Homo sapiens: one gene and its partners. The protein of the gene in region 1 interacts with the protein of each later gene in a pairwise test. Each region holds a gene or a part of one and is shown on either strand. Other genes may lie near its edges.

Region 1 (7,942 bases):
CACATTGCTGGAAAGAAATACCTGACGCTGGGTAATTTATAAAGAAAGATTAATTGGCTCACGGTTCTCCTGGCTGTACAGGAAGCACAGTGTTGGCACCCGCTTCTGGGGAGGCCTCAGGAAACTTTTACTCATGGCGGAAGGTGAAAGAGGAGCAGGCACGAAGCAAGAGGGGAGTGTGAGTGGTGGAGAGATGCCACATCTCACTAGAACTCATTGTCACCACACACTTTGAAATGACCAAATCTCCCCAGAACTCACTGTCACAAAGACGGCACCAAGCCACGAGGGGTCCGCCCACATGATCCAAACACCTCCCACCAGGCCCCAGCTCCCCCGTTGGGGATTACAATTCCACAAAGGTTTGGGCAGGGATAAATATCGAAACCATATCAGGTGGTGAATCTTCCAGGAGCAGGGTGTTGGGTGGGAAGGGGCATTGGTTCTGAGGGACTGACCTGCTGTCAGTCCTCACGTAGCCACTTAGCAGCCTTAGTTTTCTCAGCTGTGAAATGGACAGAGTGCTGCGTTGAAGCTATTTTATAGAACCTAGCTCTTATAGCTGGACAAACCATGTTTCCCATCTTCCCTTCCTCTACTTCCCCTGGATTTCTTTTTTTTAATTTATTTTTTTAATTTTTTGGAGAAAAGAGTCTTAGTGTCGCCCAGGCTGGAGTGCAATGGTGCGATCTCTGCTCACTGCAACCTCCACTTCCTGGGTTCAAGTGATCCTCCTGCCTCAGCCTCCCGAGTAGCTGAGATCACAGGCATGCGCCACCATGCATGGCTAATTTTTATATTTTTAGTAGAGACGGGGTTTCACCATGTTGGCCAGGCCGGTCTCAAACTCCTGACCTCAGGTGACCCACCCACTTTGGCCTCCCAAAGGGCTGGGATTACAGGAGTGAGCCACCATGCCTGGCCTTTTTTTTTTGTTTATTTTGTTTTGAGAGAGAGTCTTGCTCTGTCACCCAGGCTGGTGTGCAACCTCTACCTCCTGGGTTCAAGCGATTCTCCTGCCTCAGCCTCCCGAGTAGCTGGGACTACAGGCACGTGCCACCACAGCAGGCTAATTTTTTGTATTTTTAGTAGAGACGGGGTTTCACCATGTTAGCCAGGCTGGTCTCGATCTCCTGACCTCAAGTGATCCATCCACCTGGGCCTCCCAAAGTGCTGGGATTACAGGCGTGAGCCACTGCACCCGGCCTAATTTTTGTATTTTTAGTAGAGACAGGTTTTTGCCATGTTGGCCAGGCTGGTCTTGAACTCCTGACCTCAGGTGATCCGCCTGCCTCGGCCTCCCAAAGGGCTGGGATTACAGGTGTGAGCCACCGTGCCCGGCCGTGGTAACTGTTGATAGGGAATGTGAGGTAGGTACTGTGGTAGGAAAATTAGGGCCCCTCACGGTGCACCCTGAACCTGATTTCTCTTTACTGCAGCGGCCACCATGCTGCCACTGGGCTCAGAGCCCGCCCTGAATGAGCTGCTGCTTCGCAAGGAGGAGGAGTGGAGGGCGCTGCAGGCACACCGCACCCAGCTGCAGGAGGCGGCTCTGCAGGACACACGGAGCCAGCTGGAGGAGGCGCAGGGGAAACTGCGGTGCCTGCAGGAGGACTTTGTCTACAACCTTCAGGTGCTGGAGGAGCGGGACCTCGAGCTGGAGCGCTATGACGCCGCCTTCGCCCAGGCCAGGGAGTGGGAAGAGGCCAGGCGGGCAGAGGTGAGCGAGCTCAAGATAGAGGCAGCTAAGCTGAGGCAGGCGCTAGCCAGAGAGGCCAGGAAGGTGGAGGAGCTGCAGCAGCAGCAGCAGCTGGCATTCCAGGAGCATCGCCTGGAGCTGGAGCGCGTCCACAGGTGAGCCACCGACCGACGCGCCCTCCTGTGCAGTGCCTGGCAGAGGCCCCCACATGCCTCCTGCTCCGCTGTGCTGCCCGAGCACTGCCCACTCTCACTGCCCCTCCTCCCGCTGCTGATTCCAGGCCACGGGAGCTGGTCTGTCTGAGTGGCCGAGTGCCTCGTGGCCTCTGAACATGTGTTTGTTGAGTTAATGTGGATGGATCCAGGAATGCCCTGACTGTCTTTTTCTGGGTTCTGATATAACTCTGAAATTAATGGAGATTGGTTTTAATATTTGGAATTTATTTCATTAATTATAAATCTATATTAATACATATTTGAATTTATAATGATTTTAATGGAAGTCTGTAGTAATTTCAAAACTAAATGAGCTGACTTAAGGCAAGTCGACATAAAAACCTAAAGCCTTTGTTGTGGGGCCTGTGGTGGGGCCCCTGGAACTCAACCACATGCCTGGTATCCCCTCAGCTCCACTCACCCAGCCATGCTGTGGAGAGTTTGAGGAGACAGGAAGGAAGGAGGACAGGCTTCTCTGATAAGCTCTTCCATCCCCCACTTCAGAAGTACCGCAGGTTCATCATAGCACATTAACAGAGGCCCTTCCTGTGTGATGCGTGTGTACAGACGTTAGGAGAGCCGGCTGCATGCTCTGTTTACACTTAACAGGATCCTGGGTACTTTTTTTATGTTTTATGTATTCTTCTAACATAAGCAGCATTTTTTTTCTTTTCTTTTTTTTTGAGACAGAGTTTTTAGCTGTGTTGTCCAGGCTGGATCGCAGTAGCGTGATCTCGGCTCGCTGCAACCTCCATCTCCCGGGTTCAAGTGATTCTCCTGCCTCAGCCTCCCACGTAGCTGGGACTATAGGTGCCCACCACCACGCCCGGCTAATTTTTTTTTCTTTTGTATTTTTAGTAGAGACGGGGTTTTGCCATGTTGCCCAGGCTGGTCTTGAACTCCTGACCTCAGGTGATCCACTGGCCTTGGCTTCCTGAAGTGCTGGGATTATAGACGTGAGCTACCGCGCCTGGCCATAAGCAGCTTTTTAAAGCACTTTTTAAAGCCGCAGGAGTAAACTATTCTTATCATAGAAAGTCATTTCTCAGAGAAGATACTGTGGTGGAATGGCGAAGTGAAAGCCGCCACGGGCAATCTGTTGTGTCATCTCCAGGCCCCATATAGAGCCACCTGCGCACACTGCTCCGAAATGTGCGTCCAGCACTTCCTGATCGATTTGTGGTGTCTGTCCTTCGTGTCAGTGCGCTGGGTTCTGCCACGCCCTTTTAACTGACCAGCTACCCTCTGTTGTGTGTGTTGGGCCGGTTTGCTCAGAAGGGTCTCAGATGGGTGTGAACGGGCCAACAGGACCACACCAGGTGCTCCGGTCCAGCAGAGAGACCTTCTGCGGCAGGTCAGGTGCAAGGAGAGGAGACCCACATTGGTGGGTGTGGTGCCCCTCTAGCTCAGAAGCCCCAACCAGTATTGTGCAGCCAGTATCTCCTGTAGCAGCCCGCAGGGATCGCGTCTGCAGTCCCTGCAGCAGATGTACCCTGAGCGCCACCGTCTTCTGGGAAGCCCACAGTGTTGATGGTCCCTCTCTCTATCGCATCTCGCGGCGTGGATAAAAAGTGCCAGTCAGCAGTCATTTGACCCACGCAGTGCTGCTTGCTAATGTGGTAGACACCCGTGTGCCACCTGCCCAGTGTCCAGGGAAAGAGAGAGTTGAGCTGGAGGTCAGCTTCTCCCTGAGTGGAGGGAGGGTGTCTGGAAGCTCCCGTCCCCAGCATGAAGGCTGGTGCTCAGCCTGCACCTCGTCTGGGCGCCGAGTCCGTGCAGGTGCGTGCAGTGCTTGGACAGCTGAGGCCCACTTGCCCGCCGTGCGGGTGCTGACTTTCTCATAGCTGCTTTCCAGAGTGTTTACAGCATCCTTTTAAAAGTGCTTTACGTTATGTTGTGAAGTGTCTCTTCAAGTCTTTTGCTCATTCTTCTCTCCAAACCTGGGATGTTTTCAGCCATGTTCAGGTACTTTTTCAGTCTCACACTCTTTTTTTTTTTTTGAGACAGAGTCTTGCTCTGTCGCCCAGGCTGGAGTGCAGTGGCGCGATCTCGGATCACTGCAACCTCTGCCTCCGGGGTTCAAGGGGTTCTCCTGCCTCAGCCTCCCGAGGAGCTGTCACTACAGGTGTGTGCCACCATGCCCGGCTAATTTTTGTATTTTTAGTGGAGATGGGGTTTCACCATGTTGGCCAGGCTGGTCTTGGACTCCTGACCCCGGGTGATCCACCTGCCTTGGCCTCCCAAAGCGCTGGAATTACAGGCGTGAGCCACCACACCCAGCCTGCTATAGCTTTTTCTTTGCTGAGATTTGTTTTTCCATTTGCTTTACTAGATTACTTGAAGCGCTTTTATAATGACTGCTGTAGCTTCCTTGTTGAAGAATTCCAGCGTCTGTGTCATCTTGGTGTTGGCATCTACCTATTATCTTTTCTCCTTCAAGCTCAGATCTTTCTTTTTTTTCCTTTTTCTTTTTTTTTTTTTTTTTGAGATGGAGTCTCGCTCTGTCGCCCAGGCTGGAGTGCAGTGGCACGATCTCAGCTCACTGCAAGCTCCACCTCCCGGGTTCACGCCATTCTCCTGCCTCAGCCTCCCGAGTAGCTGGGACTACAGGCGCCCGCCACCACGCCCGGCTAATTTTTTTTGTATTTTTTTGTAGAGACGGGGTTTCACCGTGTTAGCCAGGATGCTCTCGATCTCCTGACCTTGTGATCCGCCCACCTCGGCCTCCCAAAGTGCTGGGATTACAGGCGTGAGCCACTGGGCCTGGTCAGATCTTTCCGGTTTTTGGTTGTCAGGTTTTTTTTTTAATTGTATCCTGGACATTTTGGGTTTTATGTTGTGAGACTCTGGGCCCTATTTAATTTCCTCTTTTATAGATGGGTGTAGCATGCTGGTCCAGGTGGGGCTGGAAGTTCTGCTACCCCGTGGGTCCTGCTGAAGCCACCCCTTCATAAAAGCAAAGCACCAACTTTCACATGTCAAGTGCACCTTGAAAATGTATTACCTTTGCTGAATATTTGGTATGGCTTTTCTTAATGCTGTTTTATTACCATAGTGACAAGAATGGTGAGATTGACCACCACCGGGAACAGTATGAAAATCTAAAATGGACACTGGAGAGAAAACTTGAGGAGCTCGACGGTGAGCTTGCTCTGCAGAGACAGGTAGAGCCTCTGGGTCGGCCCCTTCCTGGGTGCTTTCCCTGCCTGCCCACTGTGAAACTGAAATCATATAGGGCTGAGGAAAAGACAACCATTTGGTTCATTGCCTGCATTCTCCTTGGGAGTAAAATGGGGTCTTTGGGGCAGATGCCACTCTGGGATGGTCTGCAGGGAAACAGGATGGGATGTCTACATGCAGCCACCTCCACAGTGTTTCCTTGTTTTCTTTCCTCATGGATTAGTCAGGGTTCTCCAGGGAAACAGGCAATAGGAGACGTGTAGATATATAGGAGATAAATTGTAGGAATTCACTCGTGCAGTTACGGAGGCCATGAAGTCCCACAGTTTGTCATCTGCAAGCTGGAAAACCTGGGAAGCTGGTGGTGTAATTCAGCCCAGGGGCAAAGGCCTGAGCACCAGGGAGCCACTGATGTGAGTCCTGGTCCAGCTCTGAAGGCCCAAGATGCAGGAGCCCAATGTCCAAGGGCAGGAGAAGGCGAGTGTCTCAGCTCAAGCAGAGAGAGCGAGTTCACCCTTCCTTGCATTTCGTTCTATTCAGGCCCTCAGTGGATTGAATGACGCCCATCCACAGGAGGAGGGCTAGTCTCTTCTGGAAACACCCTTGCAGACACTCCCAGAAATAATTTTTTACCAGCTATCCGGGCAGCCCGTAGCCCAGTCATTTGACACATGGAATTAACCAGCACACCTCAGAAATGATGAAACTTTTAAATTTATTTTTAGAAAGGTATAATTTTAAAAACATGAATTATTTACTATGGAAAAGAATTTGGAATTCAATTATGATAAGTTTAAAAACAGATGCTTCAACTGAAAAGTGGCAGTCACCGAATTTCTCCTCAATGTTCTGGAAACTCAGCCTACACCTCCAAGAGACTCAGCTGTGCTGGGGTTTTGTTGAAAGACATCCTATAGATTTATATCTAGAGACCACAGTCAGAGATGCTGCCACTGTGTGCATATGTGACAAGGGGCTGCATCTCTGCAGGTTTACGTGTGATGAGGGGCTGTGCCTGTGCAGGTGCAGGTGTCATGAGGGGCTGCGTCTCTGCAGGTGCAGGTGTCACGAGGGGCTGCGTCTCTGCAGGTGTCATGAGGGGCTGCGTCTCTGCAGGAGTCACGAGGGGCTGCGTCTGCAGGAGTCACGAGGGGCTGTGTCTCTGCAGGTGCAGGAGTCATGAGGGGCTGTGTGTCTGCAGGTGCAGGAGTCACGAGGGGCTGCGTCTCTGCAGGAGTCACGAGGGGCTGCATCTCTGCAGGAGTCATGAGGGGCTGCGTCTGCAGGAGTCACGAGGGGCTGAGTCTCTGCAGGAGTCACGAGGGGCTGCGTCTCTGCAGGTGCAGGAGTCACGAGGGGCTGCGTCTCTGCAGGTGCAGGAGTCACGAGGGGCTGCGTCTCTGCAGGTGCAGGAGTCATGAGGGGCTGCGTCTCTGCAGGAGTCACGAGGGGCTGCGTCTCTGCAGGTGCAGGAGTCATGAGGGGCTGCGTCTCTGCAGGTGTCCTGAGGGGCTTCTTCTGTGAAGGTGCAGGTGTGATGAGGGGCTGCGTCTCTGCAGGTGCAGGTGTAATAAATGGCTCTGTCTATGCAGGTAGGTGTAAGTGTTACTAGAAGCTGTGTCTATGGGGGTGTCATAAGGGGCTGCGTCTGTGCAGGTGCAGCAGTGATGAAGGGCTTTGTGCAGGTGTGACAGGGTCCCCTCTCTGGTCCTGTCGGATGTTGGGAGCTTGGTCATAGTAGGATAGGCCAGTGTGTCACTAATTTGCCACAGTCAGGTCAGCAGAGAAGGAGGCCACGCTCACGTCATGATGGGCCCTCCTGTGGACTGTCCAGTTGTCCCCGGAAGTGCTGAGCTCACTCCCGTTGTTCACAGGTCCCTGAGGCTGCTTCTGAAATGGCCTGCAGAGGACTTTCTCTTGGAATTCTCAGAAACCAAAGAGCTTTGTCGATTATGGATGAGTTTGAGAACAGCCGGAGTTCTTTAGGCATGAAGCCAGCGTCTAAAATCCGTGGTCAGTAAGAGACCAGTGGTGACTTTTCTAAGTAGTGAGGCTTCCTCAAGTGGCTCCAAAGTCACTTCCAAAGAAGGAGTTTGAGGAGGATCCAGCTGTGGGTGGTCCTGCCCAGCAGGTGGGGGGCTCTTGGCAGCATCTGGGGACAGTGGCGATTTGAGGCTGGTTGTAGTTGGCAGGGCGCAGCCATTCTTGTCAGAGTTTCTGGCTGGGCCGTGACTATGGCTGACTTCCCAGGCTGTCCACGCCGAATTTCTCAGACTCAGCAGGGCTCGTTCAGGGAGAGCCATCTCAGACGTTGGGAACATGGATTTTTTATCATGTTCAGATAGTATCCTTGTCTCTGGAAAGAAGGAAACGTGACGTTTTAACGTGGCAGCTTTGGTTACTAGGGGAAACTTGGGCAGCACACATCCGGTGTGGTTCTGGGTAGTCCGATCCTGTGTGGGCTCTGGGATGCTGGCACTGGCTGTCGGGAAGCTCTGTTCTACTGCCGGCATCTCAGCCTTTTAGTTACTAAGCTAGGGTCTTACGTGCTTGTCAGTTTCATGGTTTCCTTTGCTCTGATTTCTTGTCTTGTTTTGGAAGATCTTGGTGTTTGTTATTGTCAGAGGTAGAATTGACTCAATGGAGATAAGGATTTTTCTTTTTCTTTTCTTTTTTTTTTCTGTAGCGACAGGGCCTCACTGTGTTGCCCAGGCTGGTCTTGAATTCCTGGGCTCAAGCGATCCTCCCGCCTCGGCCTCCCAGAGTGCTGTTACCAGTGTCGCTGACCCCAGCTTCTCTCCTGGACAGTGTGTGTGGTCCTTCTCTGTTAAACACTGTGTCCTGCTCA
Region 2 (8,019 bases), 6.7 Mb from region 1:
ATTTGAGGTCAGGAGTTCGAGACCAGCCTGGGCAACACAGTGAAACCCCATCTGTACTAAAAATAAAATAAAATAAAAAAATTAGCCAGGCATGGTGGCACACGCCTGTAATCCCAGCTACTTGGGAGGCTGAGGCAGGAGAACTGCTTGAACCCAGGAGGCAGAGGCTACAGTAAGCTGAGATCATGCCACTGCACTACAGCCTGGGCGACAGAGTGAGACTCCGTCTCAAAAAGAAAAGAAAAGATGTGCCTGCTTTAGAGCTTTTGTGACATACTGTAACTGCAAAAGCTGTACCCGTTTCCACTCCAAGTCTGAAGGTCTCTGCCTTTTACCAATGCTGGATTACTAAGGTGATGAAGGAAAAAACATTTAACCTGGCATGAAAAATGTGAAACCCTACTAATGGTAAATTCTTCACCCAGTCCTTCATTTAAGCATACACTCTACATACCTGCCTGCGCACCTACTAAGTGCCAGGCACTGTTCCAATCCTGCCTCTCAGTGCTCACACACACTCAGCTGCAGGCGCAGGTCATCTGAAGATGCGGCTCGAGTTCATAAACCAGAATAAAACAAAATGACCTGGATTCCTCCCAACCTGCCTCTCTCAGAACGCTTCCAGCAGGCGCCCCCAGTCTGTGCCCAAGGAACTGCACTCCAGCCAAGGGTTCCAGGTAAGGAGAGGCCATTTTCTACCTTAGACTAGTCAGCCAGGTCCCAGGACTAGAATATATGGAAGGGGAACAGGAAGGGGATTTACCTTGGTTGGAATCGTCGAACCACATAACCCAACCTCTTCAGGTGGCTGAAGACCTCAAAAGAAAAAAAAAAAATGAAAGCTCAGATGGCCACTCTGGAAAACACCAAATGGTTTCTCCAGACACAGGCCATCCCCACAGCCCTCTCTGCCCCTCCTGTACACCCCCAGATTCTAAACCCTGTGATTAAGGTTGGACCATGCTTCATTACGAACACCATCCCTAAAGATCTCAGGCTCTGAATTCCTGTCCTCCCACTTACCTTACTCGGCACAAATGACATTTAGCCAAATCCAAAAAAACTGATAGCCATGAAACCAGAAAACCACCACGCCCTGAAATACTTGAGTATTTTGATACAAAGCTCATAGGAGTGAAGCTGCCGATCACCATGTGAACAAAATGATGGCAGGTGGTGGGCATCTCTCCAGCCCCACACCTCCACAGATGCCGGTGGGAAGTTTCTGGTAGGGAGCCACATATTCAACCTTGTGTCCCTGCATTCATATCAGAGGAACATAGATAAGAATGTCCCCCATCCTGCTTGATCTCAGCAGGCTTTAGCACAGCTAACCACTTCCTCCTTGAAAGACCTTCTTTTGGCTTCTGTGATGCGACTTTGGTTTTTCTCCTGCATCACCAGACACTCCTCGGTCTGTTTCTGCTTCTTATCTGCCCCCTAACCTACACAGAGAGCCCCAGGGCTCAGACCCAGCCCTCTACTCTGATGGCACTCCCATACAGCCCAGTAGTTTAAATACCATCCATGTGCTCATGGCACCCATATTTACATCTAGCCTTGACCTCTCCTCACACTCCAGACTTGGATTCCAATTGTCTGTCTGCTTTACACTCACTTGGATGTCCAAGAAGCTCCTCAAAATTAACTTATCTGACACAGTTCTTTCGACTGGTCTTGTCCTCCCAAATCTGCTCCTCTTCATTCTTCCCACTCAGAAAATGACAGCACCTTCATCCACTGGTGCATGCCCAAATCATGGGCGGTAATCCTGGGTTCTTCTCTCTCCTTAATCCTGACATCCAATCCATTGGCAGTCCTATCCATTCTTTCTCCAAAATATTTCTGAGATTCATCTATTTTTCACTCACTGCAACTCTACCCACCCCCAACCTGCGACAAGCCCCTAGCTTCTCTCACCTGAATGAACAGCCCAGTCTCTTTGGATTCTCTTCCCCCACCTTATCTTCTGACAGCACTGGGGTCTATGTGAAGCCAACAGGCCACCACCACAATGTAAGCCTCGTGACAGCATAGCCCTCGTCTGCCCTGCAGCCCCAGCATGTGACACTGTGCCTGGCACCTTATGGGTACTTGTCAATACTCATTGATTCAGTGGATGGGTGGCTCCCGGAGGCGGGGTGGTGGCAGATACCTGGTACTGCAGGAAGGTCACAGTGTGGTCGGTCAGCAGCAGCTGGTAAGCTTCCTGGATAGACAGTGGCAGGTCTTGGTGGAAGAGGTGGATGGAGCCCTGGAAGTGGGGCCAACAGCTCAGCTTATGAGCCCTCACTACAGTGCCACAGAGGAATGGGGCAACTTCCCAGCTCTGATACCTCCCCCTCCCCCTCTCAGCAGCGCATCAAGAATGTGGCCAACCAGGAAAGTGGGGCAGCATCACTAATGTGGACTGGAATCCCTGCTCCCTGCAACGTACCACCTCCTGCTTTAGAAGTTTGGTTATCAGTTCTCTAAAGACCGGGTTGTGTGTGCTTTTTCTCCGATAAAACGTGTCCTTCCCGTTCTTTGGTCCCAACTCCTTCCCCACCTCCCGGGCCCCACTTACACACTCCAGAAGATACAAGGCCTCTTCCGGGTGAAGGCGCTGCCGGCCCTGCTCTGAGAAGCCCATGGTCTGCCAGAATTTGCCCTGTGTGGGGCCCAGAGCAAGTGTCACAAGGGAGGGAGGGCAGGGAGGGCAGGGAGGGCGGTCCCCGGTCCCCGAGCCCGCCGCTCACCGCGGGAGACTTCAACTCCACGAAGCCCTCTTCTGGCCTCCACTCGGCAGCCACCAAGCTGCCCCTGGCGAGGAGTGGGGAGGGGTCTGCGTCAGTCCATTCCGGAGACCCCGCGGCCCGCCTCGCCCCCGCTTCCCTTACCCCTGGGCCCGCCCCTCTCACAGGCGCTCCACGCGCTGCTCTGCCAGCAGCTGCCAGAGCTCTTCCCGGCACCGGCGCAGCCGCTCGGCCTGAGCTGCCGAGCCGTCGGGCAGAAAGTCCTTGGGGCCATGCGAGCGCTGGGGCAGCTTCTGCGACCGCGAGCGGGCGGCGAAGAGCTCCCGGGCGCTGGGGGAGAAGGGGACGCGGGGTCAGCGCCGCGCATCGGGGGCCGCCTGGCCGGGTCCCGGGCGCCGGTTTCCCTACCCGCGCTGGCCCCGCGCCCCCGACACCCACTCCGGCCGGGCCGCGCCGCACCTGAGCACGCGCCCCGCGGGAACCTCCACGGCCGCGGGCTCGGGCTCGGGCTCCATCCCGCCGCCGCCTGCCGCTGCGCGCGCCGCCACGCCCCGCCCACCGCCGGAGCTCCGCGCTGCCCTAGTGCCCGCCGATCCGCAATGCCGCGGCAGCCCCGCCCCCTGCACCGCCCCAGCCCGCTCTGCGCCCTCCTGATTGTCCCCGGTCCTAGCGCCCGCCCGGAAGCGCACCCCGACGCCGGGTCTGGGAGCTCAGCCCGCAGGTTGCTGGAGATGCAGAAGGCCCCTCTTTTGCCCCTAGCCCTCCTCGGGGCTTCTCTCCAGTAAAGCCTGAGGAGCCGGCGTCTGGAGTGCAGTGCGAATGGTCACACTTGTGACCGCCCCTCTGCAGCCTCGCGCTGCTTAGTCCCCACCGCCCGGGCTGGGCAAGGAGGGCAGAAGGGCTCAGGGAAGGACGAGCGGAGGGTGTGCAAATTCCGACTTTGCAGGCCGAAGGCCACCCGGGAACTGTCAGGAGCGGTCCGGGGAGGTTCGCCATTCCTTCGGTGTCTTCCGTCCGGTCCCTACGGCTGGGCTCCGAAGCCAGGTTTCGAGGGCCGGGGGCGGGAGGCGCTGTCCGGCCCACGACGGTGCTGAAGCGCCACCTCCGCCCGGCACGAGCGCCTCCTCGAGGCTGGGGTCCCCGCACTGGTGCCGTCCGCTAGGTGGTGCCATTGCCCGGCCGGCGGCTGCGGGTGGGCGACGCCGGCCGCAGACGGGGGGTACTGCAAGTGGGGTCCCGCGTCTTGGTTGCCAACCCCCTTCACATTACGTCTTCTCTCCCACCAGTCAGACCCGGGGTGTCTAGCCCTTGGGTCTAAGTCCAGAGCCCCAGGTCACCTCTGCCCCCGCGCCCCCCGCCCCTCCGTTTCACCTGGGCGCATGCGCTGATCCGGTCAGCGCCCCCGGTCCGGGCGGGCACGAGTTGGGGCGGGATCTGGCGCGGATGGGGGCGGAGCCGCCGGTGCTGACTGACAGCCTGACTGCGCGGCCGGGACGGTCCCTCCGTTCCCGATCCGGCGGGAGGGAGGGGGGAGGGGCGGGATTTCCTGCGGGAGGCGCCGAGCCGGCCTTGGAAAAGGAGAAGGAGAAAGGGGGGCAGGGGGGAGTGGGAGCCACCGTCCTGAGTGCCAGGGACCGAGCAGGGCCAGCCGGACCCCGGCGGGCGGCCGGGAGAGGTGAGGCTGCGGGGCCCGCGCTGGGGGTCAGCGCCCCTGGGGGCGGGCGCAAACTAACTTTTCTTGCGGGGTCGGCGGGCACCTCCATCTCCCCGCTCCTTCCGTCCTCCTCGCGCCCCTTTTTCCATCCTCCGCGTTTATACCTCGGGCGCTTGGCCCGCCCGGCTTCTCCCGCCGCTTTGTTCCCCGGTGGGCCTGGGCTGGGCTGGGCTGGGCTGGGGGGTTGCGAGGCGCTGGAGGGACATTCCGGGGGGCGGGGGAGCCAGCCCGACCCCAGGCACTGCCAAGGGCGCCCTCCGCCCGTGTCGGCCGCGGGCTCCGCGTGGGAGTGCCCCTGGGTTGGGCTTGGGACGTTTGGGGAGTGAGGGGTTCCCGGCCAGGGCCCCAGGCCTGCGCGGATCTCATGCCACAAGACTCTGGCAGTAAATTCGCTGCCACCGAGAAACTGACGTAAGCTTCTCTGCGGTGGAGTCCAGGGTCTGGGCTTCAGGTTCAGGCTTGGGGGGCTTGGGAGCCCCGTTTGTCAGCAGTGCCCCAGCTCTCTCTGTTCTCTGCCCAGCTGCTCCTCCACCCGACACAAGGGGCGAGGGCGGGTCAGCAACAGGTGCTGTGCAGCTTCCCTCTCTAGCAGGCAGAGCCCCCAGAAATGGGGGGCCAGAAGCACTTCATGCTCTCCGTTCACAAAGAGTCCTAGGACTAGGGCATCCAGCCATTAAAGCGAAGCCTTGAAGCCTCCGTAGGGAGGAATCTGGGGGCTGGTGCCTTTGACAGGGAGTGACCCCTGCCCGCCTGCCTGTGCCTGACCCTCCCGGCCCCACCTCCTGGCCCGCCAGTTGTCTGTGGGTGTCGGAGCCTCGGGCTGTGGAGAACAGGCTGCTGGCCCGGCCTGCCCCAGTATGTCATGCTGCCAGGGCCCCTCCTGCCCAAGGTTGAGGTACTGCCAGGTGCCCTGGGGCCCCAGTGACTCAGCCTCCCCCTCCCAGAATGCCACCTCCCCCCCACCAATACTCCTCTCATGCATAGCAGCTTCCTCCCCACTTTCAGTGGCTCAGCATCACCATCGACTCCGAGGGGAGCCAGGGTGGCTTGGGGGCTCCCTGGAGGTCTTGTCCTGCTCATCCTCTGCACTCCACTTCTGGGACCCTTGCAGGCTGTGGCCCAGCATTCGACAGAGGCCCCGTGCTTTTTCCAGAGCCCTGAGACCAGTGCACCGCTGCTGCCTGAGGCCCAAGGGAATGCTGGCTGCTCTCTGGGTGGGCACTGGTGTTCCACAGCCAAGCCGGGAAGATTGGTGTGCCCAGTCCCAGCCCATCCTGGAGCTGTCGGAAGCCACAAGCTGATATCCATCCAGATTTCCATGTAGCCTTCACCCCCTCAAAGATTAGCTTTCCTTCGTGTGGTGGCAGTTCACGGAGCACCTTTGGGAGTATCCCTCAGTACCTGACGAGGAGCCCACTGCCTGGGACACCTGACTTGCTCCCCCGGAACCGGGAGCCCTCCAAGGGGCTGTGGCATGGCGCCCTGACGCCCCAGCTTGGACCCGTTGCCTGCCTTTGCCCTGGACTCCTGAGTGTAGAGCTCAGCCCAGGAGCCAGTATGGGTCGTGAACAGGACCTGATCCTCGCCGTCAAGAATGGAGATGTGACCGGTGTGCAGAAACTGGTGGCGAAGGTCAAGGCCACAAAGACAAGTGAGTACCGGGTGGGACGAGCATCCCGCTGAGGCCGAGCGCTCAGTTCACAGAGGCTTGGTGGGTGGGGGTGGGTCACTGTGATCTGCATATTTGAGGAGGGTGGACTGTCTTGTTCTCAGTAAGAAGTGCCTCTGTGTGAGAGAGCCAGAGAGAAAGTTGGGTCCCCCTTGCTGTGTGTCCTTAGGCAAGTCACTTAACCTCTCTGGGCTGCAGTTTCCTGGCCTGCAAAATTAGAGGGTTGAAGTACGTTCATTCACATTGTTATTGAGTGCCTATAGCTTGTCACCCAGGCTGGAGTACAGTGGCAGGATCTCGGCTCACGGGAACCTCCGCCTTCTGGGTTCAAGCCATTCTCCTGCCTCAGCCTCCCTAGTAGCTGGGATTACAGGTGTGTGCCACCATGCCCGGCTAATTTTTTTTTATATTTTTGGTAGAGATGGGGGTTTCACCATGTTGACCAGACTGGTCTCGAACTCCAGACCTCAAGTGATCCACCCACCTAGGTAGGCCTCCTAGTACTAGGATTACAGGCGTGAGTCACTGTGCCTGGCTCAGGCTCTGTTCTAAGCACTGGATCATAGTAGTGAACAAAACAGACCCAAATTCCTGTCTTCGTGGAGTTGCCTTCTAGCAGATGGTCTTTCTGATGTGTTCTTTGGAGCCATGAGATTTCTGACAGTGGGTTAGAGAAGACTGAATAGATAGAACTTCATCCCTACCCCCAACCTCAAACGCACACATTTCAACCAGAGCACCTCTATGTTCGTGTCTTAAGAGGATATCTATAAGATAGCTGTTTTTTTTTTTTGAGACGGAGTCTTGCTTTCTCACCCGGCCTGGAGTGCAGTGGCATGATCTCAGCGCACTGCAGCCTCTGCCTCCCGGGTTCAAGCTATTCTTCTGCCTCAGCCTCCCGAGTAGCTGGGATTACAGGTGCCTGACACAACGCCTGGCTAATTTTTACTAGAGACGGGGTTTCACCATCTAGGTCAGGCTGGTCTCGAACTCCTGACCTCAGGTGATCCACCCGCTTCAGCCTCCCAAAGTGCTAGGATTGCAGGCATGAGCCACCGCACCAGGCCACGAGATAGCTTTTAAAAAGGGAATTCTACTGCTTAAAAAAAGTTCAACACTCTCTAACAAGTTGCTAAAGTTTCTCTTCCCCTGACATGTGTGTCCTGGTGGGGTGTGGCCAGAGCTCATTTACTGGAGATTTTCACCTAGCCTCGAGACCTGACCGGGCTGTGGGGGATCCATGCACAAGCGGCCACACCTGAGCCCCATGTCTTGGGTACCTCTGTGGTGCGACCCCCCACAGGGAGAATAGACCTCTGGGCTTCAGGGAGGGCTCTCTGGGCTGTCCCAGGAGGCCGCTGGACTTGTCACCTTGAGATCCCAGATCAGCATAGGCAGGAGGTGGTTCCTGCCACCAGACTGAGGCAGGAGGAGTTCCCTGGATGGGAAGGTCTCCTCTGGAGTTCAGGGGCTCTAGCCCCAAGATACACCTCGGTCCTGTGCACAGGAAGGAGTCCCCCAGGCTACCTGAACACCTGGGGTATGGGTGCCAGAGGAAGGGCCTTAACCTCATGCATCCACTAGCACACTGGGGCAGGAGACGCAGGGCCTGGAGAGGTGGAGCTGTGGGGTGGTCTCTGTGCCTAGGGAAGTGGACACAGGGTGGGTGCCACTGGGGAGGTGCTAAGGAGGTCCCAGGGGAGGGCCCTAAGGTCCAGCAGTGCAGCCACTCCCCTCTTCTGTCACCTCTGTGTTGTTTTTGGCAACCTGCCCAGTGGGGCCTTGGTCAAGCTGCTGCTGGCCTCACCGCTCTGGGTCCTCAAAGTGAGGCCCTCAGGAGGGCAGGCGGGAGGGGTTTGGAGGCCAGTGGCGGGAACTGCAGAGCTGGGCTCTTAGGCTCC
Region 3 (7,942 bases), on another chromosome or scaffold:
GAAAGAGGGAAGAACAAGGTCACGTAGTTTATTCCAGGGTCGTATCTGTGGACCCGAAAGTCATTTCTCTGCGTCCTGCCTGCTTACCCCTCTCTTTGTCCCCGAGATAGTGGCCAGCATGGCAGCCATGGGGCCTGCCCTGGGAGGCGCCTACGTGGACCCGACACCCATCGCCAATCATGTTATCAGTGCAGATGCAATAGAAGGTAACAGCCCGGCTCGGGGGATCCTTCCTGTCACATTTTACAGGACTCATTTCACCTGCAGATTCACACCCACTCTGGAGGTGTGGCACCCCTTGCATGCTGGCTTCCAGGGGTCCATTGGGCAGGGATTATTGCAGCCACAGGCACCTGCCATGAGGAGAGAAAAGGTGTGGATGCCCTTGAACCTTCTGTCTCTTGCAAAGAGACACCAATGTCACACAAAACAAGAGGGTGAAGAGTGATGCTTCTGTGCCCTGCACCCCAACAAGGCCACTTTTTTTGTTTGTTCGTTTTGAGACAGTCTCGCTCTGTTGCCCGGGCTGGAGTGCAGTGGCGCGATCTCCACTCACTGGGACCTCTGCCTCCTGGGTTCAAGCGATTCTCCTGCCTCAGCCTCCCGAGTAGCTGGGATTACAGGCACCTGCCACCACGCCCGGCTAATTTTTGTATTTTTAGTACAGACAGGGTTTCTCCATGTTGGCCAGGCTGGTCTCGAACTCCTGACCTCAAATGATCTGCCCACCTCGGTCTCCCAAAGTTCTGGGATCACAGGCCTGAGCCGCCCTGCCTGGCACAAGACCACTTTTGTTTTGTATGTTCCCCTTGGTGGCATTACATCAATAAGCCATAGTTTATTTCCCCTGAAGACATGTATTTGACTGATGCTGAGTTGCACAGCCTGGGTAGACATTCCCTTGCCTCCTGGGCTGAGTCTGTGTGGCCCTCACAAAGGCTCCAGTCCAGCCTGAGGCATGAGGGAGGGGCCCCAGCAGCCATCTTAGAGAGTTTAGTCTTTGTCGAGTCCAGTGGAGCCAATAAAGGCTTGTGATACACGTAGGGGTCCATCTGGTACCTACTATTTTTTTCCCTTTTCAATTTTTTAATTTTTTTTTTTTGAGACGGAGTCTTGCCCTGTCACCCAGGCTGGAGTGCAGTGGTGTGATCTTGGCTCACTGCAACATCTGCCTCCCAGGTTCAAGCGATTCTCCTGCCTCAGCCTCCCAAGTAGCTGGGACTACAGGTGTCTGCCACTACACCTGGCTAATTTTTTTTTTTGTTTTTTTAGTAGAGATGGGGTTTCACTATGTTGGCCAGGCTGGTCTCAAACTCCTGATCTCGAACTCCTGATCTTGTGATCCGCCTGCCTCAGCCTTCCAAAGTGCTAGGATTACAGGTGTGAGCCACTGTTGCTTAAACCCAGGAGTTCGAGGCTGCAGTGCGCTGTGATGGCACCGCTGTACTCCAGCCTGGGTGGCAGAGCGAGACCCTGTCTCCAGAAAAAAAAAAAAAGATTTCAGAGAGCAGCCTGGCACCTGAGCGGTGGGGGGGGGGCTGCAGAATTTGTGGGGCCCCAGCGAAGCCACCGAGTAACGCGGAGCTGGGTCAGCCCTGACCGCTTACAGCCCGGCCGTGCTGGCACTCCATGATGTGCTGAAGCAGCAGCTGAGCCTGACGCAGCAGTTCATCCAGGCCAGCCGGCACCTGCACGCCTCCCTCCTGCGCTCCCTGGACGCGGACTCCTTCCACTACCACACCCTGGAGGAAGCCAAAGAGGTGAGCGCAGCTCCCCATGGGCAGGGGCAGGGCAGTAGGGGAGCGGCAGCTCCCAGAGGCCGGGCCGAAGGGATATGGGCCGGGGCCTGGGCTCCAGCGCTCAGCCCAGGGCTGCAGGGATGCAGTGGGGCCATCACCTGTCCCTGTGGAGGGAGCCTCATTTCCTGCCACCCTGTGGCAAAAGCTGGTACAGGGTGGGGTGCTGAGCTCCTGCACCTTGCAGCCAGCCCCGCCTGGGCTGTGTGACCTCAGACTAAAGGGACCTACTGTTCGTGGCACTGTTTTCTCCCATGGGAGGGGTCCTGTCCCTTTCCCTGAGCCTCCTGAGACATCCCCGAGATGGGGCCAGAGGCGGCCCAGCTGTTCTCCTCAGCAATCACCCTCACCTCTTTTTTTACCCTCTAAGAATTTTTATCTGATTACCAGCCAGGTGCCGTGGCTCACACCTGGTGCTTTGGGAGGCTGTGATGGGTGGATCACTTGAGGTCAGGCGTTTGAGACCAGCCCGGCCAACGTGGTGAAGCCCCATCTCTACTAAAAATACAAAAATTAGCCAGGATGGTGACGGGCGCCTGTAGTCCCAGCTACTCAGGAGGCTGAGGCAGGAGAGTCGCTTGAACCTGGGAGGTGGAGGTTGTAGTGAGCTGAGATCGTGCCACTGCACTCCAGCTCGGGTGACGAGCAAGACTCCGTCTCAAAAAAACTTTTTAAAATCTGATTACCAAAAATTACGTGGCTGTTTTCTGAAAATCTTGTTGCAGAGATGTGTAACCTGCAAGTTCTCCTTAATTTCAGAGGTAACTATTACCAAGCTGATATATATACTCCTTCAGACTCTTGTATGAACCATAGTATGCGTATTTCTTTTTTTTAAAATTTTTTTTTGACGGAGTTTTGCTCTTGTTGCCCAGGCTGGAATGCAGTGGTGTGATCTCAGCTCACTGCAGCCTTCGCTTCCTGGGATCAAGCGATTCTTCTACCTCAGCCTCTCAAGTAGCTGGGATTACAGGTGCCTGCCACCATGCCCAGCTAATTTTTGGGATTACAGGTGCGAGCCACCATGCCTGGCCACGTATTTCTTTATAGAAATGGCATTATACTATATGCAGTCCTTTATGGTGATCTATTCATAAACTTTTTTTTTTCTTTTGAGACTGAGTTTCACTCTTGTTGCCCAGGCTGGGGTGCAATGGTGCAATCTCAGCTCACTGCAACCTCCGCCTCCTGGGTTCAAGTGATTCTCTTACCTCACCTTCCTGAGTAGCTGTGATTACAGGTGCGAACCACCATGCCCAGCTAATTTTTCATATCTTTAGTAGAGACAGGGTTTCTCCATGTTGGTCAGGCTGGTCTTGAACTCCCGACCACAGGTGATCCACCTGCCTCGGCCTCCCAAAGTGCTGGGATTATAGGCGTGAGCCACCGCCCCCTGCTTTAAACATTTTACATAACAAATTTTTCAGTGTTTATTTCTAAAAAGTGATGTTAAAGCCAGGTGTGGTGGTTCATTCCTGTAATCCCAGCACTTTGGGAAGCTGAGGCAGGGTGGGTCGCTTGAGCCCAGGAGTTCATGACCAGCCTGGGCAACATAGCAAGACTCCATCTCTATTAAAAAATACAAGAAAACTAGTTTAAGTTTAGCATAGTGGTGTGTGCCCGTAGTCCCAGCTCTCTGGGAGGCTGAGGTGGGAGGATCACTTGAGCTGGGGAGGTTGAGGCTGTAGTGAGGGAGAAAGCGGGACTCTGTCTCAAACAAACAACCATAATGCAATAATACACAAACCAAATTTACTAAGTATCAAGGAATATCCAGTGTTGAGATTTCTGCTTGTCTGATTTAAAGTTGTGTGTTTTGTTCCGATTTGGTAATTCGGATCCAAAGTCCATACTATCCGATATGTCCTTTGAGCCTCTTAATCTAGAGCAGCGACCGGTTCTCAATGCTGAGCGGTTGGGGATCCCCTGGAAGCCCTGTGAAAGCGATGCTGGGCCCGCAAGCAGGCGGGGTGGGCCTGGAGCTAGGCGTTTCTCCCACATGCCCCGGGACGCTGCTTTGGAACTGTGCCGAGTCCCCTGCATGCCAGGCCTCTCGTTTCCTTGTGGTTTATCTGCTGAAGAGGGCAGGTTGTGAGTCCCACGGGTCTCTACAATGTCAACTTTGCTCATTGCAGCCCTCTGGGGGCTTTGAACTCATGCCTCTGTTGGGCGTCCATCAGCCCATCCGATGCAGGCAGAAGCCATCTGACTGTGCCACCTGGCTGCAGCCCACCATAGCTCCCAGCTGCTTGCTCCAGGCGCTTCTCCCTGATCTCAGCCACTCCAAGGGCACTCACAGGCACCCCTCCCTTTCTCTGTCAGGGCTCACCCCTCGCAGGGCTGACCCTCTACCCTGTGTTCCCACAGCCCCGTGCGCCAACCTGTCACACACATCCTGTGGTTTTACACTTCTGTCACTGACAGGAGCCTGCTGGGGACAGGTGCTGGCTCCACTCCCTCCTCCAGCACCCTGTCTCAGAGTGTACTGAGGTGACGATGGTGATGGCGTGGTCTGTTCTCTGCCTGACAGTACATTAGGTGCCACAGACCTGCCCCACTGACCATGGAGGATGCCCTGGAGGAGGTGAACAAGGAGCTGTGAGCGCCAGCAGGTGGAGCTTGACGTGACGTCTTAACAAAAGGTATCCCGTCCTGTGTACTCAGTGCACACACACGCACACAAACATAGAGCTCATCAGTGTCCAAGTGTGACGTTCCGTGGTGGGGGCAGGTGGTACTGGGGTGATGGACACACACACACACAGTCAGCATCCAGGTGTGACATTCCATGGTGGGGCAGGTGGTGCTGCGGTGAGGGCCCCAGACTCCTCTGAGCCAAATCCCAGCTCAGTGACAGCTCTCCCAGCAGCATGCCCAGCTCTATGACACCACAGGCCAGTGGAAATAGAATTTCAGTGGAGCTGTCCCCACTCACAGCAGGACAGGGGCCACCAGCCTCTGCAGAGCAGCTCCACCCAGGCAGGTCCTGGCATCCCAGTGAGCCAGAGGGAGACAGGGTGGATGGGAGAAGCCCTGCTCGAGGGTAAGGACATGGGACCAGGTCAGCACGCTGGGGACGCCATGTGAGCCCCTGGACACGGCCTCTGACCCCAGGCTGCACAGCTCAAACCAGGACATGTGTCTCCTCACTCAGCCCGTGCACACTTCTGACTTACACATGTGCGGGAGAAAGGTCTTTAAAAAAAGGCTTTATTTGAAGGCAAAACAATGAAATCCACAAGAAATTACTAACAGCACGTGTTTACGTTTTATCCTGAATCATACATTTTAACAATTCACAGCTACAGGAAATCTAGAACAAAATCAAATATTCATCACGTTGGGTTGAAAAGTTGGAAGATTTTGCATCTTATTGAAAAGAATTTTTCAAAAATGTTTCTGTACAAATGAATGGAATTGCACCAGGCTGCCCATGGACACCAGGTGTGGCCGATTCCCAACGGTCACCCACCAGCTTCTGGCAGGAGCAGCTCCCCTCCTGGCCTCCCCTCCCTTCGGGGGTGTGAAATGAAATGATGGAGTGGAAGGCGCTGGCTGGGGTCGGGCTCCATGCTCTGGATGGGACTGGGCCGTCGCACACGCCAGCCGGTGCAGGGTTCTTCCAAGTGCAAAACTCAAGCAGGGGACGCGACGGGCACAGACTCCGAGGCAGCGCTCAACCTGAAGTGTCTTAGGCTGGTTTCCTGTTAGAATCTTGTTTCCCAGATAACAGCAAATGGCTACATTCCAGAAAAAAAATATCAACTTATACAACTAAAATAACTGAACTAAGGGCCAGTACGCCTTCGAAGAATTAGGTTTCAGAATCTCACTGGGCCTCCTCTCAGGTCAGTATTCTTCTTTCTAGACCTAAACCAAGGAGAGTAAAAATGAAAACCCTGCTTCACTTCGCAAGTCAAGTCAAAGTTTTGTGTTTCTGTTTTTCAATCCGCGGGCAGTCATGGCACTGGGCTTCGGCTTTGTCCCTACACAGCCGAGGGGAAGCCAGGTCAGGGCCGGTGGGTGCGGGGAGCTGGAGGAAGGAGCTGGGGTGCCGGCTCTGGCTCAGGCCAACCCTTCCTGCACATGCTCCTCCTGGAGCCTAGGAGGAGGCTTCAATCTGACTTAGGGCAGATGCACATCCATCCCTTCGTGGCTGAAGAATTTACTCGGGCGGAGGGTCTTGTGTTTTTTGCTTCGCTATAAAGGAAAACGAGCCTGGGGCCCTGGTGGCTGCAGCGCCTCCTGGTGTGGTTTGTGGGTGGCACCCGTGCCCTCCACGCCATGGAGCACGGCGTTCCCACTGGGCATGCGCTGGTCTTCCTTCTCTTCCTGTGGCTCTCCACAAGTGGAGACGGTGTAAGAACTGAGCTGTCACTGCAATCTTCCTCTGCCAGTCAGCCAGGAAGGTCCCACAGCCGGCACCGCTGGCCACCGGCGCGGCTCCCGGCATGGGCGCCTACTTACACTCGTCCCTGGCCTTCATGCGGGCGATGAAGGAGTAGCTCTTGTTCCTGCGGTAGTTCTCATAGGGGTCATCCAGAGCCACGCCCACGCCTTTATACTGGTCCCACTTATCCCGGACGTCCCCGCCCTTGATGGGGTCCTGGATCCCTTGCTCCTTCGCACCGAGGCCGCCTGAGCCGCTCCAGCCTGGAAACAGAGACGCAGTCACAACCACAACAAGGCGGAGGCAGATGGGGGTGCACGTGGGGGGCTGAATGTCCAGACAGGCAGTGTAGACATGGGAAATGGGTAGAGAGAACCCGCAGGCCGGCCCTGTCTAGAGGGTCTGGGTGGAGTCAGAACCGGCCTGACTCCATCCATCCCCACATGCACTGAGGAAGAGAAAGCGCTGGTGACTCCCGGGCCCAGCACGCGTGAGGACCCATCCCGCGCCCTCCCCATTCCCTCGCCTTACCCATCTTCACCAGCATCTGATGGCCTTTGTTCTCTTCTCCGAGCCTTGAGTCAGGGATGGGAGGCGCCGAATTAGAACCCAGACCAGCAGAGGAACTAAAATCGAGACAGGTTATTCTTTTTAAGAAGTAACTGAGACATTTATTGGAATGACAGTGATGAGGACCTCACAGCCGCAGCTTGCGTGCATGCTCACTGTCACCAGGTGACACCGTATGCAGATTTTGCGTCTCTACCCGTTTATCCTGTCTCAGCTAGATAAGGGGGCTCCAGACGCTGGCCCCCACCCCACGCTCAGCATTGAGAGCAGGACACCTCCAACCCAGATGGTGGTTAGAAAGCAGACCCCAGTTACTGCCTCAGGCTTCGCCAAGTGGCTACTGTGGTGAAGGGTGAGGGGTGCCACTGTCCCCGGGCTAATGCTGGCGGCCTCCTAACACAGTCTCCTAACCACCAATGTTTCCACATTCACAGCAAAGCACCGCAGCTTCCCAGAGTTACCAGCGCAGCACTTAAGACAGGATCTTACGGCGGGGTGGGGCTCCTGGACCGTGACCGGCGTCTTCTTCCTGGGGAGTACGACTTGGACCGGGACCGCGACTGGGACCGGGAGCGGCTTCTGGAGGAGCGCGACCTGCTCCGACTTCTGCAGGGAAGGGTGCCCAAGGGTCAGCAGCAGCCAGGCGTCGTGGGGAGGCCACAGGAAGAGGCCTCAGGCACTGCCCTGAGGCAGCCTCTGCCTACCTAGATCTGGAGCGGGAGTAGGAACGGGAGCAGGAGCGCGACCTTGACCTTGAGTACGAGCCTGAAGACTTGGAGGATCTTGAGTTGGAGCGGGAGGAAGAACGCCCTCGACTCTTGGATCTGCTCCGAGACCTCGAGGGTCCGCTGTGGGGAGAGGCCTGATGATCAGGTGCCCCAGTGGATGGGCTGCACCCAGCCCACCCTGGCCCTCAGGTTCCTAGACCACCCCAGATGCAGGGGCTCTGGCTGTGGATGTGGCGCCATAGCCACAGCAACGGTACCAAGTTCCTAAATAGTGTGGCCGAGCCTGCTGCTGTGTGAATTCAGGCCTTGTGGAAAACACCGCCCCATAGGCACAGGCTGTGTGAGGGTGGACGTGATGAGTGTATCTGGGGTCTGCTCCCACCCATCACAAGCTGTGGACCCTGGCCCCCCGGCCACTGCAGACATCTGCGCTTTTACCTGTTCCTCTTCTCCTGGCC
Region 4 (5,106 bases), on another chromosome or scaffold:
CTTCTCTTTCCATGAGTCATGTTTCTAAAAGTGGCCCAGGAGTAAGTGGCAGCCAGACGGTGGTGGCGGGGCCTATCTGGCCAGGCAGAGGGAGGGTGAGGCTGAGGCCAGCAGTGGGGAGGAAGAAGAGAGAAGGAGAGACAGGGAGGGCAGGGCCAGAAGCAATGGGAGACAGGCCTTGGACCAAGGAAAGAGACGGGGTGGAGAAGGAGAGAGAGAGGGTGGAGACAATAGGGAGGCAGGCACAGAGGAGAAAGAGGGGTGGAGGGAGCCAGGACCTCACCGAAGGCCTCCTCAGCCCTGGAATTTAGATGCAGTCGGGCATGGGGTGGAATGTTCTGGACTTTTGGGTATGAAGCCGTGTCCCCTGCTGGGCCTTCCCACCTTTTTGCATCTCTTCTCCTAGGAGTGCTCCTGACCATCACCTTCATGCCTGGGGCTCGCCCCTTGCCTCTGGTCTTGGTACCCCAGAATACCCTGGCCTGGATGCAGCTGGATGCAAAGGCCCCAGCTCACCCCAGGCCTCTCCAGCTTCTAGGCAGAGTGGGGCCTGGGTCTAGGCAGGTATTAGGGGCTGGGCTGGAGTTTCATTAACACAGGGGGTGGGTTCAAGGCCTGATTTCCACTACCTGCCGTGTAGGCTTGCCTGGGACCCTGTGATGGGCTCTGAAGGCCCATCTGAGGGTCCGCCCTTCATGCCTGGGCCTGGGAGGCCTGGGTATCCTTGGGGTCCTGGGACACAGTCCCTGCCTACCCTCCTCACCAGTCCTCACCACCTCTCTCCCCTGCAGCTGGCTGATGGTGTGAACTCGGGCCAGGGCCTGGGCATCGAGATCATCGGGACCCTCCAGCTGGTGCTATGCGTGCTGGCTACTACCGACCGGAGGCGCCGTGACCTTGGTGGCTCAGCCCCCCTTGCCATCGGCCTCTCTGTAGCCCTTGGACACCTCCTGGCTGTGAGTCAGGGGCCCTCCCAGATGGAGGTGGGGGAAGGGAGGGCGGGGGCTGGTGGGGTGCCCTGCCATGGGCAGCCAGTGGGACTCCCGACAGGGCTCTTGCCATTGGGTGGAGGATGGCGGGTCAGCGCTGGGGGCTGGGGGCAGGGTCCTGCCCTGGAGAGGAGCACAGGGACCTCCTGCCCAGCTTGGGGTCAGCACTCCTCTTTCCCTGGGTCTCATTGTCCCCCACCCTGATTGTTCTCTTTCTCCCTCCAACCTCTCCCTCCTCTCACTCTCTCTTCACCTATGACTCTCTGCCTTCGCCCCTCCCTCTGTTTCTTTCCCTCACAGATTGACTACACTGGCTGTGGGATTAACCCTGCTCGGTCCTTTGGCTCCGCGGTGATCACACACAACTTCAGCAACCACTGGGTAGGAGACCCACGGGGGGTGGGGTGGGAAGCTTTGGTGTCCCATGGTAAGCCTGACCCCACCCTCACAGTGTCCCTTCCTGTTCTGGAGGCTCTGGGAGACAGCCAGAGGACAGGAAATCAGGAAACTGAGGCCTGCCATGTAGAGGCAGGCTGGGGGTCACACTGCCAGCACTTTCAGGCCTAGTCTCTGCCCTCCCAGCTCGGCCCTGCCCCATGCTGCCTGGCCTCCAGGTCTTCCCAGCTGCGTGGTTAAAAGTGGGGCTCCAAATCCTGGCTCAGCCACTTTCGGGTTTAGCATGACCTTGCGCAGTGTGCTTGAGCTTTGGTTTCCTGAGCTGCGGAGGGGGATATGGTGGTGCCCACCTCTCAGGGTGGCCGAGAAGAGGAAAGGGCTCACTCCCCATCTGTAAACTGAGCTCAACACAGAGGAGGCGCTCAGTGGATTTTAGCTCTTATGGTTGTGGATGTGGATGTGCTAGGCCAGCTTTGCATTAGACAATGGTCTCTGGGGCCCTTCCAAAGCTGGGAGTGTGGGGGCAGTGGCCTTCCTCAAGAAGGGGCTGCTACTGCCCATGCCTGAGCTGGGCCCCACAGAGGCAAGGAGTTGACCCTACCACGTACTCTGGCCTGGGCCGGTTCTGAGGGGCACCGGAATCATGATGTTAGGATTTGGCTCTCCTACCTGCCTCCATCCCAGGTGGGAAAAACCTGTCCAACGGGGTGGTGGGCTGTGGGGTAACCTAGGGAACGCTTCCCAGGGGCTTTTGAGTGGAGCCCTCTGAACACACCTGCTCTGTTCCTAGATTTTCTGGGTGGGGCCATTCATCGGGGGAGCCCTGGCTGTACTCATCTACGACTTCATCCTGGCCCCACGCAGCAGTGACCTCACAGACCGCGTGAAGGTGTGGACCAGCGGCCAGGTGGAGGAGTATGACCTGGATGCCGACGACATCAACTCCAGGGTGGAGATGAAGCCCAAATAGAAGGGGTCTGGCCCGGGCATCCACGTAGGGGGCAGGGGCAGGGGCGGGCGGAGGGAGGGGAGGGGTGAAATCCATACTGTAGACACTCTGACAAGCTGGCCAAAGTCACTTCCCCAAGATCTGCCAGACCTGCATGGTCAAGCCTCTTATGGGGGTGTTTCTATCTCTTTCTTTCTCTTTCTGTTTCCTGGCCTCAGAGCTTCCTGGGGACCAAGATTTACCAATTCACCCACTCCCTTGAAGTTGTGGAGGAGGTGAAAGAAAGGGACCCACCTGCTAGTCGCCCCTCAGAGCATGATGGGAGGTGTGCCAGAAAGTCCCCCCTCGCCCCAAAGTTGCTCACCGACTCACCTGCGCAAGTGCCTGGGATTCTACCGTAATTGCTTTGTGCCTTTGGGCACGGCCCTCCTTCTTTTCCTAACATGCACCTTGCTCCCAATGGTGCTTGGAGGGGGAAGAGATCCCAGGAGGTGCAGTGGAGGGGGCAAGCTTTGCTCCTTCAGTTCTGCTTGCTCCCAAGCCCCTGACCCGCTCGGACTTACTGCCTGACCTTGGAATCGTCCCTATATCAGGGCCTGAGTGACCTCCTTCTGCAAAGTGGCAGGGACCGGCAGAGCTCTACAGGCCTGCAGCCCCTAAGTGCAAACACAGCATGGGTCCAGAAGACGTGGTCTAGACCAGGGCTGCTCTTTCCACTTGCCCTGTGTTCTTTCCCCAGGGGCATGACTGTCGCCACACGCCTCTGTGTACATGTGTGCAGAGCAGACAGGCTACAAAGCAGAGATCGACAGACAGCCAGGTAGTTGGAACTTTCTGTTCCCTATGGAGAGGCTTCCCTACACAGGGCCTGCTATTGCAGAATGAAGCCATTTAGAGGGTGAAGGAGAAATACCCATGTTACTTCTCTGAGTTTTAGTTGGTCTTTCCATCTATCACTGCATTATCTTGCTCATTCTTCAGTTCTCTACTCCCTCTTGTCAGTGTAGACACAGGTCACCATTATGCTGGTGTATGTTTATCAAAGAGCACTTGAGCTGTCTGAAGCCCAAAGCCTGAGGACAGAAAGACCCTGATGCAGGTCAGCCCATGGAGGCAGATGCCCTTGCTGGGCCTGGGGGTTTTCCAAGCCCTCAGCTGGTCCTGACCAGGATGGAGCAAGCTCTTCCCTTGCTCATGAGCTCCTGATCAGAGGCATTTGAGCAGCTGAATAACCTGCACAGGCTTGCTGTATGACCCCTGGCCACAGCCTTCCCTCTGCATTGACCTGGAGGGGAGAGGTCAGCCTTGACCTAATGAGGTAGCTATAGTTGCAGCCCAAGGACAGTTCAGAGATCAGGATCAGCTTTGAAGGCTGGATTCTATCTACATAAGTCCTTTCAATTCCACCAGGGCCAGAGCAGCTCCACCACTGTGCACTTAGCCATGATGGCAACAGAAACCAAGAGACACAATTACGCAGGTATTTAGAAGCAGAGGGACAACCAGAAGGCCCTTAACTATCACCAGTGCATCACATCTGCACACTCTCTTCTCCATTCCCTAGCAGGAACTTCTAGCTCATTTAACAGATAAAGAAACTGAGGCCCACGGTTTCAGCTAGACAATGATTTGGCCAGGCCTAGTAACCAAGGCCCTGTCTCTGGCTACTCCCTGGACCACGAGGCTGATTCCTCTCATTTCCAGCTTCTCAGTTTCTGCCTGGGCAATGGCCAGGGGCCAGGAGTGGGGAGAGTTGTGATGGAGGGGAGAGGGGTCACACCCACCCCCTGCCTGGTTCTAGGCTGCTGCACACCAAGGCCCTGCATCTGTCTGCTCTGCATATATGTCTCTTTGGAGTTGGAATTTCATTATATGTTAAGAAAATAAAGGAAAATGACTTGTAAGGTCCTTCAGGCTTCCTGTAGTTTTTCTTCTTTTGATGCTGTGTCCCCACAAATGTTTCTGGATTACTCCACAAGGAAATCAGGCCACTGCTAGAGACCCAGTCTGAGGAGGAGCCACTGCCTCCCCTTCTGCCTTCAAGACCCCTGATCTCAGGCAATGGATACAGCCACACCACAGAACCCCATCTGAGGGACACAGGGTCCTGCCCCTAGTAGGAGACTTCCAGAGCCCAGTGGGATGACTTTGGAGACCTGGGGGCAGGGAAAAGGGGCAGGCTTCTGATCAGTTTAAATGGACCGATGGGAGCCATTTCTGATTCCGGAGTATGGAAGGGATGGGGGAAAGCAGGGCTGAAGTCTAACAGCCCCCTCATCCCCTCTACCCTCCACAGAGCAGGGCCCAGGGAACACTAGGGATTGCTCCACCTTCCTCCCTCCCTCCACTCACATTTGCAACCCATCTGACCTGGGCTGGGCGTCTCATGGGAGACAGACTCACTCATCAGAGCCCAGTGCAGTTAGGGCTACTTCAGGCTGAGACTGGGACCCTGGCTCCTGACCCTCCCGACGTGCACACACACTTAGTAGTGCCTGATAATAGGGAACAGGTATCACCACGGCAGTGGGCTGAGGCAGGAAATAGTGTATGGACAGGTCCTGGGGCCCCAGCACTGCTCCTGGGAGACACATGGTTCCTGTCCCCTCTGTGGAATGCCTGGCTGATGGTGATATAAGGGGGGCTGGGTCTCAGGGAGCCAGGGGCTAGGCATCCGCAATGAAGACTGAGGCCATGTTGATGGAACAGGGTTTCTAATTTAAGTGTGCCCTGGGTCACTAGGCTGTCTAAGTCCCTGCAAATCAGTGCATC

What was found.
Region 2: the proteins of CCDC57 (region 1) and TSEN54 interact in binary tests that used the Homo sapiens proteins (3 or more experiments, as listed by UniProt).
Region 3: the proteins of CCDC57 (region 1) and C19orf44 interact in binary tests that used the Homo sapiens proteins (3 or more experiments, as listed by UniProt).
Region 4: the proteins of CCDC57 (region 1) and AQP1 interact in binary tests that used the Homo sapiens proteins (3 or more experiments, as listed by UniProt).

The regions. Positions count from the first base shown.
Region 1 is NC_000017.11:82,195,450-82,203,391, reverse strand, and holds part of CCDC57 (coiled-coil domain-containing protein 57), read left to right. Parts: intron 1-1,439; coding exon of another isoform or gene 1,440-1,447; coding exon 1,448-1,854; intron 1,855-4,967; exon of another isoform or gene 4,968-4,969; coding exon 4,970-5,078; intron 5,079-6,295; exon of another isoform or gene 6,296-7,903; intron 7,904-7,942. UniProt on the Homo sapiens protein: Pleiotropic regulator of centriole duplication, mitosis, and ciliogenesis. Critical interface between centrosome and microtubule-mediated cellular processes. Centriole duplication protein required for recruitment of CEP63, CEP152, and PLK4 to the centrosome.
Region 2 is NC_000017.11:75,511,792-75,519,810, reverse strand, and holds the start of TSEN54 (tRNA-splicing endonuclease subunit Sen54), read right to left. Parts: upstream 3,284-8,019; 5' UTR 3,251-3,283; coding exon 3,195-3,250; intron 3,066-3,194; coding exon 2,901-3,065; intron 2,803-2,900; coding exon 2,739-2,802; intron 2,651-2,738; coding exon 2,567-2,650; intron 2,255-2,566; coding exon 2,156-2,254; intron 817-2,155; coding exon 764-816; intron 1-763. Other genes in the region: CASKIN2 (caskin-2), read left to right, coding at 6,007-6,100.
Region 3 is NC_000019.10:16,512,904-16,520,845, forward strand, and holds part of C19orf44 (uncharacterized protein C19orf44), read left to right. Parts: exon of another isoform or gene 1-103; intron 104-110; coding exon 111-206; intron 207-1,593; coding exon 1,594-1,760; intron 1,761-4,326; coding exon 4,327-4,398; 3' UTR 4,399-4,438; intron 4,439-4,990; exon of another isoform or gene 4,991-6,255; coding exon of another isoform or gene 6,256-6,449; intron 6,450-6,717; coding exon of another isoform or gene 6,718-6,812; intron 6,813-7,190; 3' UTR 7,191-7,245; coding exon of another isoform or gene 7,246-7,362; 3' UTR 7,363-7,460; coding exon of another isoform or gene 7,461-7,604; 3' UTR 7,605-7,922; coding exon of another isoform or gene 7,923-7,942. Other genes in the region: CHERP (calcium homeostasis endoplasmic reticulum protein), read right to left, coding at 6,256-6,449, 6,718-6,812, 7,246-7,362, 7,461-7,604, 7,923-7,942.
Region 4 is NC_000007.14:30,921,275-30,926,380, forward strand, and holds the end of AQP1 (aquaporin-1), read left to right. Parts: intron 1-791; coding exon 792-956; intron 957-1,289; coding exon 1,290-1,370; intron 1,371-2,175; coding exon 2,176-2,355; 3' UTR 2,356-2,552; coding exon of another isoform or gene 2,553-2,735; 3' UTR 2,736-4,242; downstream 4,243-5,106. UniProt on the Homo sapiens protein: Forms a water channel that facilitates the transport of water across cell membranes, playing a crucial role in water homeostasis in various tissues.